Homo sapiens: one gene and its partners. The protein of the gene in region 3 interacts with the protein of the main gene of each other region in a biochemical or structural test. Each region holds a gene or a part of one and is shown on either strand. Other genes may lie near its edges. The genes, in order: ESR1, DAPK1 and SARNP.

Region 1 (3,654 bases), on a different chromosome or scaffold from region 3:
GGAGCCCAGAGGAAGACCGCTCTTGCCTTTTAGTTTATATTCTTTGTTTTTTTTTAAATAACATTTTGACAGTCTTTATGGAGTAAGTCTGGGCCAAAATGATAATTGACAATGTTATTTACATGGATTTCTAAGTTGGCTAAAAAAGTTCCTTTATGGTTAGTGAATATAGCCCATGTAGTTTCCCCGTCTTCTTTAGATGCCTTCTATTTCTATGCCCAAAGTCTGCAGTTGATTTTCAGTAAGCTGGGGGTCATCTTAGAGATAAAATGTAGATGAATGGCATTTTGCTGACAGCATACATCTTTGCTATTTCTGAGGAAAATGGGCTCTCGCTATTAAATCTTTTGTCAATATTTATAAAAATAGTATTTACATATTCTATCTATATTGTGGAAACTATACATTTATTGATTCAGTCATTTGATATCAATGTTGTTGAGTCCCTATTCCAAGTGAGGCACTATGCTCTAAGCACATGGCATTTTAAAGATGAATAAGACACCAAGAACTTTGCAGATAGTAATGGAAATGAGAATTAATCAATTGAAGATTAATATAGTAAGTAGCAGAAGAGAAATAAAAAAATCTTCTAGAGAGTTCAGAACAGGGATGTTGATTCAAGTTTATGGGGATTAGGAGTGGCTGGTAAGGGAGGCATTCAGGCAAAAGACATAAAAATGCAGTATTCCCCTCGCACTCATTAGGATGGCTACTATATTAGAAAAAGAAGAGAGTAAGTGTTGGAGAGGATATAGAGCAAATAGAAACCTTGTGCCTTGTTCATGAGAATGTAAAATGGTGCAGCCACTGTGGAAAACACTGGTGATTCCTCAAAAAATCAAAATAGAATTATCATATGATCCAGTAATTCTACTTCTGGGTATATATCTAAAAGAATTAAAAATCTGGGTCTTGAAGAAATATTTGTATACTCATAGTTATAGCAACATTATTCATAATAGCCAAAAAGTAGAAGCAATCCAGATGTCTATAGATGGATGAATGGGTAAACAAAGTCTGTGTAGTATATACAGACAATGGCATATTAGTCACATCATGGACCTTCAGGACATTATCCTAAGTGAAATATGCTAGACACAAAAAGCAAAAGTAGGGTTTCACTTAATGAGGTATCTAGAATTGCCACATTCACAGAGAACAAAAGTAGATTGGTGGCTGCTAGGGGATAGGGGAAGGAGAAAATGGGGAATTATTGTTGAATGGGTATGGAGTTTCAGTTTTGTGAAATGAAAATGTTCTGAAGACTGGTTGCACGATGATGTGAGTATATCTAACATGATTGAATTGATGAACACTTAAGCGTGGTTACGATGGTAAATTTTGTGTTATATATATCTTACCACAATTTAAAAAATATAGCATTTTATTATGTAGGCGTGGGTGGGAAGATACTTGACACATTGGAACTTCTGGCCATGCGTATACTGTTCACTCACTTATTCCTTCATTCATTCAACAAACATGTATTGAATGCTTGCTATGTGCTGGGCACTGAGCTAGATATAACAATTAATAAGGCTTATAAGACATTGAATCTATCAATTTCATGCTTGCTAAATATCTACTCCCACCTCCAAAGGCACTAAGCTTCTACAGTTAGATATTCATAGCTGCTTCCTACTGACTTGAATCATGCATAGGATATTAGTAAACAAGCAATAAAAAGATTTGAGGTTGATGGGGGTGGGTTCAACAGCATGGTGGTGAAATGGAAAGAGATGGGTAACAGAATATGAACTAGAATTGAAAACTGTGAGCCAGTGCTCTCTAATGAACATTAAAAAATAAAGAATTCCTATTTGAGGCTGCCAACCTCAGAACTAAGTTATTTAGAATGGACGAAATTGGCAAAGTCAGACGTACTCAACCCAAGGAGCCAATATTTTGTGAATATTATGGCAAATGTAGTTTGAGAACCACTACCACAAAATTGTGAACCATAATAATGACTGAGAAGGCAGGGAGAGGTTATACAATTTGGGCTAAAAGGAAAGACAGGGCTTGTGAAGGGGAGCGCCAGTGAAAGTCAGTGTGGTTCGGGTATTTGGGTGGGGACTGGAAGCAGGAAGCTTGAGCTTCCTTTGCCAAGAGACCCTGCTGGAAGGGCTATCATCAATTGACTTTAGCTCATCTTAGGATTTTCATTTTTTAAAAAATGTTCACAGGAACCTTCACTCCATCTATACTTTCAATGTCTGCCTACCTTTCTTTCTTATACAACTTTGAACACTCTCTCCATTCATTTAAATATATTATGGAGTGCCAACTACATGCCAGGTACTGTGCTGGGCTCTTATTCCACCTTTATTTGATTGCACATGCCTGCCAAGTCCTGGGCCAATATAACATCTACTCCTATGTCTGGTCTGGCGAGAGATGCAAACTCATCTTCCTCTACTTTCCTTACCTCCTTCCTTCCAGTCTTCTTCAAGTTGTCTTCATTGAGGCAATTTCTTTTACCTGTGTTTTTAATCCCAACTCCTCTAGTTTCCTTCTTGGCTTTATTCTTTTATCTTCCTCTTTGTGCTTTCAAACATTCCCTTTCTCCTGGCCCATGCCCTTCAGTCTACACGAGGCCTTCTCAAGTCTCTTCATTCTAAAAAATTCATTTTCTTGGGTCTTATATTCTTCAGCTGCCACCCTATCTGTATCTTTTCCTATTCTCCTCCAAGTTCTCAAAGGAATGCCTTCCCTCATTTTCATCTCCTTACATTCCATCTGCTGAATTTTGGCTTGTGCCTGTACCTGTCTAAGGAAACTCCTTGCTAAGAGTCTGCTTTGTCAGGTCTGAATTCACTTAACCAGTCTTTGCTTTGTTGGACTTCTCTGCCCCATTTGCCATTCTTGATCATCCTCTCCATAAACCTTTCTACTTAAAGCATTTTACTTCCTTATTTTCTTGGTTTTCCTAGAATCTCCTTACTGTTCATTTTCAGCTTCCTTTCTGTGTTCCTCTTCTCTTCCTACATTTTTTTTTAGCTTTCTACTTTCTTAAAGCATTTTACTTCCTTATTTTCTTGGTTTTCCTAGAATTTTCTTACTGTTCATTTTCAGTTTCCTTTCTGTGTTCCTCTGATTGTCTCTCTTTCTACATTTTTTTTTTCTGTGTTCCTCTGATTTTCACGCAGTCTGGAGTTGTCATGATCAATCATAGCCTACTGCAGCCTCGACATCCTAGGCTCAAGTGATTCTCCCACCTCAGCCTTACAAGTAGCTAGGACTACAGTCACACATCACCATTCTCAGCTAATTTTTTTAAGAAGCATTTTTATAGAGATGGAGTCTTGCTATATTGTGCAGGCTGGGCTCAAACTACAGGGCTTAAACAATTCTCCTGCTTTGGCCTCCCAAAGTGCTGGGATTCCAGGCATGAACCACCATGCTCAGTCTCTACATGTTCCTAAAGAGGAGTTTTGAATATTGAAGAACAGTATTTTCAAATTACATTATTCAAGTTATAAAAACTGATATCCAGGGTTATGTGGCAATGACGTAAAAATTTGAATTGTTATTTTTTTGACACATGTTCTGTGTTGTCCATCAGTTCATCTGAGTTCCAAATGTCCCAGCTGTTTTATGCTTTGTCTCTGTTTCCCAGAGACCCTGAGTGTGGTCTAGAGTTGGGATGAG
Region 2 (3,654 bases), on a different chromosome or scaffold from region 3:
AGCCTGGACCCCTTTGTACTTCCTTCCTGGTTTGCCTCTGGTTTCAGGGAACTGCTTCATAGTAGGACCCAGTAAGAGGTGTCTGCCTGGACATGTCTTTATCCTAGTGCCCTGGGAAAAGAAAGGAAGAATAGAGAAACAAGGAGATGATGGGAGCTGAAGGGTTATTATGGGCAAGGTGGACCACTTCAATTTTATGAAATTCTTACCGATTTATTGGTTTCTTTAACAATATTTTATTTATTTATTTTATTTTTTCAGAGACAGGATCTCACACTGTCATCCAGGCTGGAGTACAGTGGTGTGATCATAGCTCACCGTAACCTTGAACTCCAGGGCTCAAGCAATCTGTCCATCTCAGCCTCCCAAGTAGCTAGGACTATAGGCACGCACCACCATGTCTGGCTAATTTTTTTGATTTTTTGGTAGAGACAGGGTCTTACTATGTTGCCCAGGCTGGTCTCGAACTCCTAGGCTCAGGTGCTCCTCCCACCTCAGCCTCCCAAAGTGCTGAGATTACAGGTGTGAGCCACCATGCCTGGCCAATTTTGGGAAAAAACCAAAAAATTCAAAAGTGACTTATTGTGGAATATTTAGAAAATTCAGAAAAGTAGAAAAACAGTCACAAACTTTTTTGAAAGACAGAAAAGAATAAATGAACAAAGGGAATGAGACTGTATTCTTGGGTTGCAAGATATGACTATTTTATTTTTCCCTAGTTATATAAATGTAATACAATTTCAGTTAGCATCTGAATGGGTTGAGGGGATTGGGATTTTTATCTTAAAATTTCCATGGAAAAATTCATTAAACCTATTATAAAGCCCCTGATAATCAATACAGTTAAATAGGAGGAAAAGCTTAGAGGGTATAGAAGTAAATCATAATATCTTTAGAAATATAATGGAAAATAAATATGTCATTTGAATTTAATGGGGTAAAGATTATTTAATAAATGAACCTGGCACAACTGGCTATTTGTCTGGAAGGAAATAAAGTTGGATTCCTACACCCTACAAAGTCCAAAAATAAATGGATTAAAGCTTTTAAGTAAAAACATGAAACAATAAATACCTTGAATAGAAATTGTGGAGAGTGTATTTTCAAAATAACTAGGGACTGAGGGAACCTGTTAAACCAAGATCTAAAACCCTAGAAATTTTAAAAGAAAATATACCTGTTTGAAAATGTAAAAATTTTTAAAATTTTTTTCTAGCAAACAAATTAAGTAAACAAAGTTGAAAGGTGAAATAGGCTGGGAAAAAGCATTCTCAATGCTTTGGACAGATAAATGGTCACACCGTAATGTTCAAAAAGCTCTCCGGAATTGGTAAGAAAAGGGCGAGCGTCCCAGTGGAGAAGTGGTGGCATTCACTCTGGAGTCTTCCTGCTGCCGAGGCCTGAGGACAAATGCGGGCAGATGCCTGTCTCCCTCTCTTACCTTTGAAGCTGCCTCTGGGTGTATTTTTTTTTTTTTTTTTTAACTGCTTTGCTAATAAGAAAATGCTGTGCTTCCCGCACCAGATTCTGGTTCTAGATGTGCTTCCAGAATTCTCGGGAAACCCTTTCCTGTCTCCAGAAAACCCTGCCCTTCACACCAGATATCCTCGTTGGGGTCCCACTGTGGCATCATCAGAAGATAGGGGGTAGTCCGGTGAGGCCTGGGAGGAATCTGTCACAGAAACCAGGGGCGGTGATCTGGGAACTAACAGTGGTCTCTGAGGGCCCCTGTGCTTCCCCACCAGGTCTGGATTGAGGCTGCATTCCTGAGGCAGGAGGGAGTGTCCCTGGAGATTTTTGAGCTGGGCTCTGGCATGATCTGCTGCTTCTCAGACACCCCCCGCCCAACCCCTAAACTCCTGAGCTCAGGCAGGTGGAGCCCACCACATCAACTGCACTCACCCCTGAGAATTTTGTTTTTGAATGCAGAGTGGAATTTAGCTGACACAAAAGAATTTGAGAGGGGAGTGCGGAATTAATGGCACGGTGTAGCCTGTGGCTTATGTGGTTTCTAATTCAGAGGTATGTGGATTACGTGAGTCTGTAACATATGCTGATCTAATTAACCAAGTTAAAAGGTTAAAAATCCACTTCAGCCTACATACCAAGAATGGGTCTAATTGGAAACAATATTTCAACAACAGTCCCCACGAATGCCTAATTTACTGGTAAACACTCACTCTAATATTGATGATGATACTCATTCTCTTTTCCTCTGTTCATAAAGTGATCATTGCCTGAGTGAAACAGTCACGAGAGAGAGAGCGAGGGAAGAAAGGAGGGAGGGAGGAAAAAGTGAGGGAGTGAAACATTAGGAGTTGGTGAACATTAGTTGATTGAGTGACTGAGTCCACAATTCCAAAAACGTTCCTAGAAGACTCAAAATCTATTTAACATGAACTAAAGAGCCTTTATAAAACTTTATATTTGAGCAATAGATGAGGCTTAAAAGCAAGTCTAAAAGACAACTGCCCCAGTACTCAACCCAAAAAACACAAACTAGCCAGACACAGTGGTGTGTACTTGTAGTCGGAGCTACTCAGGAGACTGAGACAAGAGGATTACTTGAGCCCAAGGGTTTGAGACCAGCCTGGGCAATAGCGAGACCCAGTCTAAAAAAAGAAAAAAAAACGTCAACAACAACAAAAAAACCCACTCGTTCATCAAATCACCTGCAAGGCGCCTGAATGAAAGGTGTCCTTTCCACTGTGGCTCTGCTCAGGGCACCCACAGCTGCAGGTGAGTTAACCTGTCTGGCCCTGCCCCCTCTAGGTCTGTCCTCCCATGACTCACCTGTGTGAGAAAATCATCTCCACGCTGCCTTCCTGGAGGAAGCTCAATGGACCCAACCAGCTGATGTCGCTGCAGCAGTTTGTGTACGACGTGCAGGACCAGCTGAACCCCCTGGCCAGCGAGGAGGACCTCAGGCGCATTGCTCAGCAGCTCCACAGCACAGGCGAGGTGAGCCCCTGGGAGCCCAGGCAGGGGGCCGTGAGAGGTGCCAGGGACTCAGCCTGTCCCAAATTCCAGCTCTTGGAAGTGGTGTGAGCCTGGGGAAGCAGTGTGGAAATGGTCCAGCTAACCTACAACATTTCCACACGTGTGACAAACACAGCCTCAAGTGACGCTCTGAACTGCAGTTCTCGGCTCACCTTAGGAGCTGTCATTTTGTCTTGTCGTGTTTTGCTTTTATTTCCAGAGTCTGTTAGTTTGGGAGTGCAGTGCCCACTGCCCTGGGTGACTGGGTCTCTCTTCACTCCCCCTGGGCACCAGGAACTTAATCTGCTACTCCTGGCAGCCTTCAGGATGGCTTCTTTGTATCAGCGTGGAGTCATCAGCTCCACACAGATCTCCTGGGTGGGAAAACAGTTGAGAAAAGGCAGTGAGGTGTCCTTGTGGAGGCAATGTCTGGAGATACAAAGACAGAGAACTCTGGTGCACAGATACACAGAGTAATCATAATTAAAGATGCACATTAAAAAACTCTAGCAAGCAATGCCCAGCAGAAATGATTGAGAATGGGAGGCTTTGCTCTGGTTCTGTGACATTGAGCACCAGGGCGCGGTTTGGAAACCCTGTTCTAATGGCATCATATGCCTGTCCCAGGAACGGGGGCAGTGCCTTCGTGTTTCTCCACCATGTGAAATTGGGAGC
Region 3 (3,654 bases):
AGAACGGCGTGAACCCGGGAGGCGGAGCTTGCAGTGAGCCGAGATCGTGCCACTGTACTTCCACCGGGGTGACAGAGCGAGACTTTGTCTCAAAAAAAAAAAAAAAAAAATTTTTTTTAAGAATCTTGATCTTTCTCACACTGATACATTATTTTCTTCCCACTTCCTGGAGAACAAGTCTTTTGATCTTAATTACACTTTAAATTTTTTGTTTGTTATAAAAGTATTATGTTCACTGTAGAATAGTTAGAAAATTCTGAAAAGTTTAGAGGAAAATAAAAGTCGTATGTAATCCCAGCACTTACAGATCACTTAACATTTACATATATCATTTGTAGTGAGGCGTGAGCCACTGTGCCCAGCCTACACACAGCTTTTACATAGTTGTATTACTTCTTTTGTTATATAGTGAGTTCTTCTCATATACTAGGACGTTATTTTAAAAGGAAAATAGACATTATTTTAAAAGGAAAATAGAGGCTGGGCATGGTGGCTCATGCCTGTAGTCCCTGCAAGTTGGAAGGCTGAGGCAGGAGGACAGCTTTGAGCCCCGGAGTTCAAGAACAGCCTGGGCAACAGAGTGAGACCCTGTTCCTACAATTTTTTTTTTTTTGAGATGGAGTTTCACTCTTGCTGCCCAGGCTGGAGTGCAATGGCGTGATCTTGGCTCACCGCAACCTCCACCTCCCGAGTTCAAGCAATTCTGCCTCAGCCTCCCGAGTAGCTGGGATTACACACACGCGCCACCATGCCTGGCTAATTTAGTGTTTTCCCATGTTGGTCAGGCTAGTCTCGAACTCTCGACCTCAGGTGATCCACCCGCCTCGGCCTCCCAAAGTGCTGGGATTACAGACATGAGCCACCACGCCCAGCCAAATTTTTTTTTTAATTAGTCACACAAGGTAGCACACGCCTGTGGTCCCAGCTACTAGGGAAGCTGAGGTGGGAGGAACGCTTGAACCTGGGAGGTCAAGGCTGCTATGAACTGTGATCACACCACTGTACTCCAGCCTGGGCAACACAGCAATACCTGGCCTCAAAAGAATGAATGAATGAGAAACAGATGAATAAAAACATAAAACAGCTGAAAATGATGTAATTTCTTTTTGCACGTATTTCAGCACAATTACATTAGCAGAACTAAAACCTTTTAAAACTTAAAATAGGAACTAACATAAAATCTTATCCCATTTTTCTAAATTGATTTGATTTGATTTGAAATGTTTTGGCTCCAACACTTTGGGAGGCTAGAGGTGGGCAGATCACTTGAGTCCAGGAGTTCGAGACCAGCCTGGACAATATGTTGAAATCCCATCTCTACTAAAAATACAAAAACAGCCAGGCATGGTGGCATGTGCCTGTAGTCCCAGCTACTTGAGGGGCTAAAGCTGGAGGATGGCCTGAGTCCAGGAAGTCGAGGCTGCAGTGAGCCGAGATCATGCCACTGCACTCCAGCCTGGGTAACAAAGGGAGACCCTATCTCAAAACAAACAAAAAATATTTTAACAAGTATACTGAATGAATTGTATGGTACGTGAATTGTATCTCAGTAAGGCTATTGAAAAAAAAAAATTAGCCGAGCATAGTCGCATGTGCCTACAGTCCCAGCTACTCAGGTGGCTGAGATGGAAAGATCACTTGGGTCTGGGAGGCTGAGGCTGCAATGAGCCATGATCATGCCACTGCACTCCAGCCTGGGCAACACAGTAAGACCCTGTCCCAAGAAGAAAATAAACAAAAAAAACCAGCTAGGTAGGCACAGTGATTCACATCTGTCATCCTAGTACTTTGGGAGGTCGACGCAGGAGGATCACTTGAGCCTAGGAGTTCAAGACCAGCCTGGGCAACACAGTGAGACCCTGTCTCTCAAAAAACAAAAAACTAGCCAGGCACACTTGTAGTCCTAGCTACTCGGGAGGCTAAGGCAGGGGCATCACTTGAGTCCAGGAGGTTGAGGCTGCAGTAAGCCATGATCACACCACTGCACTCCAGCCTGGGCGACAGAAGGGAGACCCTGTCTCAAAAAACAAAAAAAAAAAAGAAAAGAGTTATAGAACATTCTATAAGGATACTAACATTAATGTAAAAAATAATACACACACATCTCTGTATAATGTGTATAAACAAGATGCCTGGAGAAGAAACAGGTAAGTTAACACTGGTTGAATCTGAGAAGAGGAAGCTAGTTTGGGAAAAGTGTAGGAAAGAAACTTTTTACCATATACTCTTTTGTGAACTTGTGCATGATTACCTATTCAAAAAGTTTTTTAAATCTTATTTTTCAGTATCAATAAAGCATTCTCCATTCTACCTATCCAACCCACAGAGAAAAGACATATCAACTTACCCTCATCATACATTTGACATTAATCATGCATTGCCCTGTGATTTCTATTTATTTTTATTTTGACTCAGGGTTTTGCTCTGTTGCCCAGACTGGAATGCAGCAGTGCAATCGCAGCTCACTGCAGCCTCGACCTCCTGGGTTCAAATGATCCTCCTGCCTCAGCCTCCTGTATAGCTGGGACCACAGGTGTGTGCCACCACAGCCAGCTAATTTTTTTATTTCCAGTAGAGATGAGGTCTCACTATGTTGCCCAGGCTGTTCTTAAACTCCTGGGCTCAAGTGATCCTCCTGCCTCAGCCTCCCAAAGTGTTGGTTAGGATTATAGGCGTGAGCCACTGTGCCCAGCTTGCCCTGTGATTTCTTCTAGTTAACTGACCTTGAATTTTTTTTTTTTTTTTTTGAGACTCAGTTTCACTCTTGTCACTCAGGCTGGAGTACAGTGGCACAATCTCGGCTCACTGCAACCTCCGTCTCTCCAGTTCAAGCGATTCTCCTGCTTCAGCCTCTCCAGTAGCTGGAATTACAGGCGTGCACCACCATGCCCAGCTAATTTTGTATTTTTTAGAAGAGATGGGATTTCACCATGTTGGTCAGGCTGGTCTTGAACTCCTGACCTCAGGTGATCTTCCCGCCTCGGCCTCTCAAAGGGCTGGGATTACAGGCATGAGCTACCACACCCGGCCAAATTTTGATTAAAATATTTTATCAGAAATCTTTTTCACGTTGGCCAGGCGCGGTGGCTCACGCCTGTAATCCCAACACTTTGGGAGTCCGAGGCGGGCGGATCACCTGAGGTCAGGAGTTCAAGACCAGCCTGGCCAACATGGTGAAACTCTGTCTCTACTAAAAATACAAAAATTAGCCAGACGTGGTGGCAGGCACCTGTAATCCCAGCTACTCGGGAGGCTGAGGCAGGAGAAGGGCTTGAGCCCGGGAGGCAGAGGTTGCAGTGAGCCAAGCCAAGACCACGCCACTGCACTCCAGCCTGGGTGACAGAGCGAGACTCCATCCCAAAAAAAAAAAAAGAAATCATCTTTTTCATGTTATGTCAACATATAGTTTGTAAATTCTTTGAAGGCAGAGATGTTTTAGACCACCTATAACATATATGATGGGAACTCAAAATCCTTACAAGGAACCTAAGTGGTTGGTATTACAATTAGGCTTAAAGAAATTCAATAACTTGCTTAAATATCACACAGCTTGGCCAGGTGTGGTGGCTCATGCCTGTAATCCCAGCACTTTGGGAGGCTGAGGTGGGAGGATTGCTCAAAGCCAGGAGTTTGAGGCCAGCCCTGGGCAACACG

What was found.
Region 1: the proteins of SARNP (region 3) and ESR1 form a complex in vitro, tested with the Homo sapiens proteins (one large-scale study listed by BioGRID).
Region 2: the proteins of SARNP (region 3) and DAPK1 form a complex in vitro, tested with the Homo sapiens proteins (one large-scale study listed by BioGRID and IntAct).

Annotation. Positions count from the first base shown.
Region 1 is NC_000006.12:151,838,606-151,842,259, forward strand, and holds part of ESR1 (estrogen receptor), read left to right. Parts: intron 1-3,654.
Region 2 is NC_000009.12:87,700,257-87,703,910, forward strand, and holds part of DAPK1 (death-associated protein kinase 1), read left to right. Parts: intron 1-2,772; coding exon 2,773-2,961; intron 2,962-3,654. UniProt on the Homo sapiens protein: Calcium/calmodulin-dependent serine/threonine kinase involved in multiple cellular signaling pathways that trigger cell survival, apoptosis, and autophagy.
Region 3 is NC_000012.12:55,807,723-55,811,376, forward strand, and holds part of SARNP (SAP domain-containing ribonucleoprotein), read right to left. Parts: intron 1-3,654. UniProt on the Homo sapiens protein: Binds both single-stranded and double-stranded DNA with higher affinity for the single-stranded form. Specifically binds to scaffold/matrix attachment region DNA. Also binds single-stranded RNA. Enhances RNA unwinding activity of DDX39A.